Linked DNA regions of Homo sapiens. The protein of the gene in region 1 interacts with the protein of each later gene in a pairwise test. Each region holds a gene or a part of one and is shown on either strand. Other genes may lie near its edges.

Evidence for each region.
Region 2: the proteins of ATP2B3 (region 1) and HTR2C interact in a two-hybrid assay, tested with the Homo sapiens proteins (one large-scale study listed by BioGRID and IntAct).

The regions. Positions count from the first base shown.
Region 1 is NC_000023.11:153,548,548-153,552,372, forward strand, and holds part of ATP2B3 (plasma membrane calcium-transporting ATPase 3), read left to right. Parts: intron 1-92; coding exon 93-307; intron 308-949; coding exon 950-1,192; intron 1,193-1,497; coding exon 1,498-1,739; intron 1,740-3,825. UniProt on the Homo sapiens protein: ATP-driven Ca(2+) ion pump involved in the maintenance of basal intracellular Ca(2+) levels at the presynaptic terminals. Uses ATP as an energy source to transport cytosolic Ca(2+) ions across the plasma membrane to the extracellular compartment.
Region 2 is NC_000023.11:114,849,536-114,853,360, reverse strand, and holds part of HTR2C (5-hydroxytryptamine receptor 2C isoform a precursor), read right to left. Parts: intron 1-3,825. UniProt on the Homo sapiens protein: G-protein coupled receptor for 5-hydroxytryptamine (serotonin).

The DNA.
Region 1 (3,825 bases):
AGACCGTGTCCATACCTCTTCTTCCCTCTTCCTGTCCCCCTCCTTCCCTCACCCGTGGCAACCCCTTTCGTCTCCTCCCCGCTCTGTGGCAGGGCTGGTGATGTCTGCCATCACCGTCATCATCCTGGTCCTCTACTTTGTGATTGAGACGTTTGTCGTGGAAGGCCGGACATGGCTGGCAGAGTGCACGCCGGTCTATGTACAATACTTCGTGAAGTTCTTCATCATTGGTGTCACTGTGCTGGTCGTGGCTGTCCCAGAGGGCCTGCCTCTTGCTGTCACCATCTCCTTAGCTTACTCTGTCAAGGTAATCATAAAACTTACAGTTGATACTGTTTACAGACTCGGAAACTGGGGTAAGAAGTCATTGGGCGCCTTGGTGGCAGTATAAACTGGGGACGTTTGGGATAGCTCAAGGGAGGAGAGGAGGTGCCGAGCAGGGACCCAGGGGGCAGCTTTGCTGATCTGTCAGCTCAGGTCCCTCGGCATGAGATGGGCCAGAAAGCAGGCAGGCGGTGAGATACCCAGGGGTTCAGCATCTGCACAATGTGGGCAGTAGGACGGAGGGGCTGGGAGGCAGCGGGGAAGCGGAGAATCAGCAGAGGGCCCGGGACACTGGGAGGCAGTGGGAGGAGGTGGGGGGAGCCAGGTGTGGGGTGGTGGGGTGGTGGGGTGGTGGGGTGGGAGAGCTGCAGGGCTGGTGGGTAACTGAGAGGGGGCTCGGGCAGGGGAGGTCCCGGGTGCGCATCCCGCCCCCACCATTGGATGAGGTTGCTGATGCCTTACAGCCTCGCTATTGGCTCAGGGCTGACCAGGTGCCCAGTGGGCTTAGTGCCACACGTGGAGCTAGCTGAGCAGAACAGAGTCACGCGATGTTTGTGTTGACATCTCTCACTCCTCCACCCCAACAAGCACCTGGGCCAAATGCCCACACCCTCGCCCTTTGCAGAAAATGATGAAAGACAACAACCTGGTGCGCCACCTGGATGCCTGCGAGACCATGGGCAACGCCACAGCCATCTGCTCCGACAAGACGGGCACGCTCACCACCAACCGTATGACCGTGGTCCAGTCCTACCTAGGAGACACCCACTACAAAGAGATTCCGGCCCCCAGCGCCCTGACCCCTAAGATCCTCGACCTCCTGGTCCATGCCATCTCCATCAACAGTGCCTATACCACCAAAATACTAGTGAGCTGGGGCAGGAGCGGGCGGGCAGGGCCGGGGGCAGGAGCAGGGGAGGGTCCTGGCCAGGGTGCCAGGTGAGCTGTTGCAAGGTGCTCATTAGGCCCCCCCTTGAGAACTTTTGCCCATCCCTGGCCTCACAGGTGGCTCTGGCTGGGAAACTGCCTGTAGCTAAGGCCGACCTTCCTCTGCTCCCTGCCGCCCACACCCTAACAATGTGGTGACCACGAGGGGGCAGAGCTGGGGCTCCAGGGGCAGCATGGAGGGTGGTCTCAGGCCCCCAGTGCCTGCTAGCCCTCGTCATCTTGCAGCCTCCTGAGAAGGAAGGCGCCCTCCCACGCCAGGTGGGCAATAAGACGGAGTGCGCCCTGCTGGGCTTCGTCTTGGACCTGAAGCGGGACTTCCAGCCCGTGCGCGAGCAGATCCCGGAAGACAAGCTTTACAAAGTGTACACCTTCAACTCGGTCCGCAAGTCCATGAGCACAGTCATCCGCATGCCCGACGGTGGCTTCCGCCTCTTCAGCAAGGGGGCCTCAGAGATCCTCTTGAAAAAGTGAGTGAGCAGCAGGGAGGTGCCGGGGTACGCACGGAGTTTCTGATTCTATTGTCGTGGTAAAAGAGGCCGAACGTAAAATTCACCATTTCAACCACTTTACAGTGTACAGTTGAATGGCATTAAGCACGTTCACAATATCATGCAACCGTCACCACTACCCAGTTCCAAAACACCTCCATCAACCCGGAAAGAAACCCCAGGCCCATGAGCAGCCCTCCCCACGCCCCTCCCCAGCCTCATGTGCTTCCTGTCTGTATGGATTTGCCTGTCTGGACATTTCCTATCAAGGGACTCATACACTGTGTGGCCTTTTGTGTCTGGCTTCTTTCCTTAGTGTAAAGTTTTTCCGTTTCCCTCAGATATTAGACCTTCCTTTCTTTTTTTGTTTTGTTTTGTTTTTTCCCTCAAGCCATCCTCCTACGTCAGTGTCCCCCGTAGCTGGGATTACATGTGCATGCCACCACGCCCAGCGAATTTTCAAATTTTTTGTAGAGCTGGGGTCTCCTCATGTTGCCCAGGGTGGTCTTGAAGTCTTGGGCTCAAGCGATCCACCCACCCGGCCTCCCTAAGTGCTAGGATTACAGGAATGAGCCACTGCCACCAGCCCGAACTTCCATTCTTTCTAAGGCTGAGTAATATCCATTGTATGCTAAAGAGCATTGTGTTGGTCCATCCATCCCTTCATCTGTCTACCAGCACGTCTACCAGCACGTGAGTCGTTTCCACCTTTTGGCTGTCACGAGTCACGCTGCTGTGAATATTCACGTACAAGTTTTTGTTTGAACCCATGTTTTCAATTCTTTTGCGTGGACATCTAGGAGAGGAATGGCTGGGTCGTGGTGTCCACGAAACTGTTTTCCACAGGGGCAGCACCGTTTCACATTCCCACCAGCGACATAGGAGGGTTCCACCTTCTCCCCATCTTCAACAGCACTTATTTTCTGGTGTGACAATGCTGATGGGGGCCATCCTTGTGGGTGTGAGGCAATATCTCCTGGTGGTTTTGATCTGTGTTTCCTTGATGACTAACAACGCTGAGCCTCTTTTGCTGTGCTGACTGGCCATTTGCCTGTCTTCCTTGGGGAAATGTCTGTCCTAGCCCTTTGCTCATTGCTGAGTTGGGTTGTTTGTCTTTTTATTGTTGGGCTGTAACATTTTTTCTGTATTCTGGATCCTAGATCCTTATCAGCTATGCGATTTCTACACATTCTGTCCCATTCTGTGGCCTGTCTTCACTCTCTTGATAGTGTCCTTAGGTGCACAAATGTTTTAAATCGTGATGACGTCCAGTTGATCTATTTTCTTGTTGTTGCTTAGAGATGATGAAAATTTTCTTAGAGATGATGAAAATTTTCTGGAATTGGAGACTGGTGATGGTCGTGCAGCTCTGTGACTATACTAAAAACCATCGAATTATCTACTTTAAATGGGTGGACTGTGTGGTGCGTGAATTATATCCCAATAAAGCTATTAGAACAAAGTAAGGGAGAGTGCACAGCGTCACCTCCAAATGCCCTGGCTTCCCCACTCCCACTCAGCCTTCCCGGACTCCACACCCTTGGCCTTGGCGTCTCTGTCCACAAGTCACCTCGCTCCTCATGACTGCCGTCCCAGGGCCCTCAGGGCAAGGTCCTCTGCAGGACGCCCAGGGCTCCCCAAAGGCCCAGGCCCACGCTCCTTCCTGTGTTCTGCGGACTGGACCACCAAGTGCACCCTGCCTGGCCGCCCCACCCACAGCGCTCTCCCAGAACTCTGCCAGGTGCAGCGCTCACTGCCAGGGCCAGGACCACCTCCTCCCTGGAGCCATCCCTGCTGGTGTGGGGGCCTCAGCCCTCTTTCTGTGCTTCTTTTTTGGTGGGCACTGAGGGACACTGAGGCACTGCGGACAAAAGGCCCAGCCCAGCTTCACTCCCCCTTACTCCCATGCCTCAGTTTCCCTGGTGGCATGGAGATCACAGAATACTTATCTCTGGGGAGGGGTGTGAGGGTTCCGTGGGTGAATCCACATCCATAGGAGGCTCTCCGTCCACACAGCTTCTGTTATGATCATTTCCTTCGTCACCAGCCTCCCATGCAGTGGCAG
Region 2 (3,825 bases), about 39 Mb from region 1:
AATTTTGTATGGCAAAATACCATAGCTATATCAAATAGCAAACAGAAAATATTTTCATTTATAACATGTTAAATGGTTAGTGTCTATAACTTATAAAGAGCTATTAAATTAAGAAATAAAAATGAAAAAAAATCAGAAAAAATGAGCAAAAGGACACTTAAAACTGATTTAGCAATGGCACTGAAGTGGTTTTCATACATTTAATCATATGAACTTCAGCCAAATAAAATAGATGCAAATTAAAATTACACTGAGGTAACATTTCTCACTTATGGGATTTGCAAAATCTAAAAAGTTTGAAAATAAACTTCATTAGCAAGGCTTTGGGGAAACAGAGGCTTTCTTGCATTGCTGGTGGGAATGCAAAATGGTTCAACTCCTAACTACATGTACCCTTTGATCAATCAACTCCTCCTCTAAGAATTTATTTAGAAGATAAATTCTGAATACATTTGAGCAAGAATTTATTTAAAAGTTAAACTTCCAATAATATGAAACACACACATGCACGCGCGCGCGCACACAAACACACAAGACAGACACACATGCACGCACGCACACACAAAGGACACACACACACACACACACACACACACAATTATTCTTAGTAGAATTATTGGCAACTTCCAAATGTTGGAAACAACTTACCTGATTATACACAGAAGATTGGTTAAATAAAGTATATCAACACAATCTATTATTAGTGAGTGTAAAAAATAATAGAATGAATTTAGCTTTTAATTGGAGTATTTAGGCCATTTACATGATAAAGTTGGGTGCATATCTATCATCTTACAAATTGATAGAGTGATTTCCAGGACATATTTCCAAGTAAAAGAACAAAGCAAAACAAAGTATTAATTTGTATGTAGCATTTTAACTTTTAATTTAAGAATGGAAAAATAACAATACGTGTATTTGTGTATAATCTTTTTTTTTTTTGCAAAAATAAATTCAAGAAGTATGCCCTAGAAACTAATGAATGGGTTAACCACGGAATAGAAGAGGAACTGACTCTTCTCTGAGTATTTTATTTGCCTAGTTTTGACTGTTGGAGCATCATATTAAAGTTTTACATATTAAAAAATAAAGTCAACAAGGTTGGGGAATACATGCAAAAACAAAACAAAATCCCTAAATGTGAACAATTGGTATCAGAACCACAGAGAAAAAAAATTCAAACTAATCCTAGCATTTTGAAGACAATGCTTTGACTATATGCCATTGGTGGAAAACATTCTAAAGATAAAATTGCAATGAAATTTTAAACATTGCATTTCATTTATTGGTAGTGGTATGGGTATAGAAATTCTGAAATTAATTTCTTGTATGGTAGGATATAGAAAATATAAATAATAAATATATCAATGGTTTGGGGACAAAGTTACTCACTGTGAGAAAAATGAGGAAAAATAAAGAATTGGAAAGTAGCAAGAGTCCTGTGTTCGTGAATTGGGATTAAAGGTATTGATATATAGGAGCAATGATATCCTATTAGCAATGAGCATACTGAGCTTCTGCATCCTGCTTTATAAAACCATTGCCCACTAAAAGGGTTTCTTGTAAGAAATGGCTAATTTCGGAACTGGGGCATGGAAAGTAAAAGGTGAGTCTGGCAAATGCTCAAAAGCTGATGGGATATATGAAAAGGAGTTCTTATTAGAAAAATATGAGACAATTTGAGCATCAAAATAATTAAGGGCAATAATGAATCATATATATTACACTGAATACAAAAGAATCCAGGAGTCTCCACCAACATGAACTAATAAATAACAAAGACTTGGAGGGAAAACACTTCCTTACAGTATAATACCAACAAATAAAGGCAGGAAGAATAATAAAATGAGAAAAATTATCATTGTATCACCTTAGTAATAGATAGCTTAGGGAAGAATCATCAATGGATTTGAAATCCATTAGGTCAAAGTTTATTGGGAAACAATTTCTTAATTTCCAAATATACGAAGGTTTTTCTACTATTTTGAAGTCATTTCTATTTCTTTTGAATTTCAGTCAAAGAATAAACAATTTATTCCAACCCTTTGGAATGTGTTGAGGAATTACTTTATGGTCAGTTTTGATAAATATTTCTTGTGCAATGATGGGAATATGTATTCTTCACTTGTCAGTGAGTTCAGGTTTGTTAATTGTTTTCATACAATCGCTGAGAAGGATGTGCTAAGATCTTATGCGATGATTGTAGACTTGTCTATCTGTCCCTGAAGTTCTGTCCTCTTTTACTTTATAATGTATATACTATGTATATTACATATGTATCTACATATAATTATGTACATACAAATTTATTACCTTATGTCTTCCAGATGTATTAAATCTTTCATAGTAAGTAATCTTCTTTCACTGGAGTATTTGTTTTTTGCCGAAAAGTCTATTTTGACAAATATTAATATAGCTATACAGTCTTTCTCTTGGATAGTGTTTAGATGGAGGAATTTTTTTGTTTGTTTTTATCCTTTTACTTTCTTTATGCTTTATATATGCCTCTTGTAACATATAGTTGTCTTATTTTTTTGAAAGCCTATATGACAGTCTTAGAATCCTTAGTAATTCATATAATTAGGGATATATTTGGTTTTAATTCTGCCATTCAGTATACGTTTTATATTTTTCTATCTTTTATTGACTCCTTTTGGATTTATCTTATTATTTCATTTTATCTTTTATTTGTAGAGACAAAGTGTTGCTTTCTCATCAAGGCTGAAGTGTCATAGCACGATCATAGCTCACTGCAACCTCAAGACACTTGAGTTCAAGTGATGCTCCTGCCTCAACCTTCTGAGTAGCTAGGGCTACAGGCACATGCCACCATACCCAGCTAATTTTTAATATTTTATAATAATCTTCTGTAAATTTGGAAATTCGCCATCTCTAATCTGCCACAGAGTTCTTAGGTTTTCATTTTTTAATTAATTAATTTTTTTTGTGTGTGTGACAGAGTCTCACTCTGTTGCCCAGGCTGGAGCGCAGTGGCATGATCTCAGCTCACTGCAGACTTGACCTCTGAGGGTCAAGTGATCCTCCCACCACAGCCTCCCAAGTAGCTGGGATTACAGGCGTGTGCTACCATACCTGGCTAATTTTTGTATTTTTAGTAGAGATGGGGTTTCATCATGTTGTCCAGGCTAGTCTTGAACTCCTGGCCACAAGTGATCCGCCTGCATCGGCCTCCCAAAGTGCTGGAATTACAGGTGTAAGACACTGCCTGGCCCTTAGTTTTTCATATTATGCTTAAGTTCCATATTTTCTAGGTGTTTCTCAAATCTTAATGTCATTTGTTATAGTTTGCAGTTTCTTGCTGAAGTGTTTAAGATCAGCATGTAATTTCCATGTGCACATTCCAAATGATTATTTAAAGTGTATGTCTGATAATTCAATTATCTGAAGTGTTTGTAAGTTTATTTCTGTTATCTCTTATTGTCCCATACCTGATTCATGTTGTATTGTCTCCTCATATATCTGCATATCATTGTATTTCAGTGACAGCATTTGAAAATTATTGAAAGAAATAAGTTGAAATCTAGGATTATGGGGTTTTTTTTGTTTGTTTATGCCCCAAAATTGGAAACCTGAATAATACGAAATCATCTTAATCCAATTTTAAGGCCCAAGATTTCTCTCATTTACATAGATGACTTGAACCAGGGCTGAATTCCATGTCTATGGTGATTTAATCCTGGTCGATCCTTATTCCTAGTGTCTGGTTTTTTTGTGATCCCAGAATTAAATTCAGGTTGGTTGGCCCTTGCCAGACTCTGTATTCCTACTCTAGTCCTCCATTGCTTGCGAGTCTGAAATGATCGT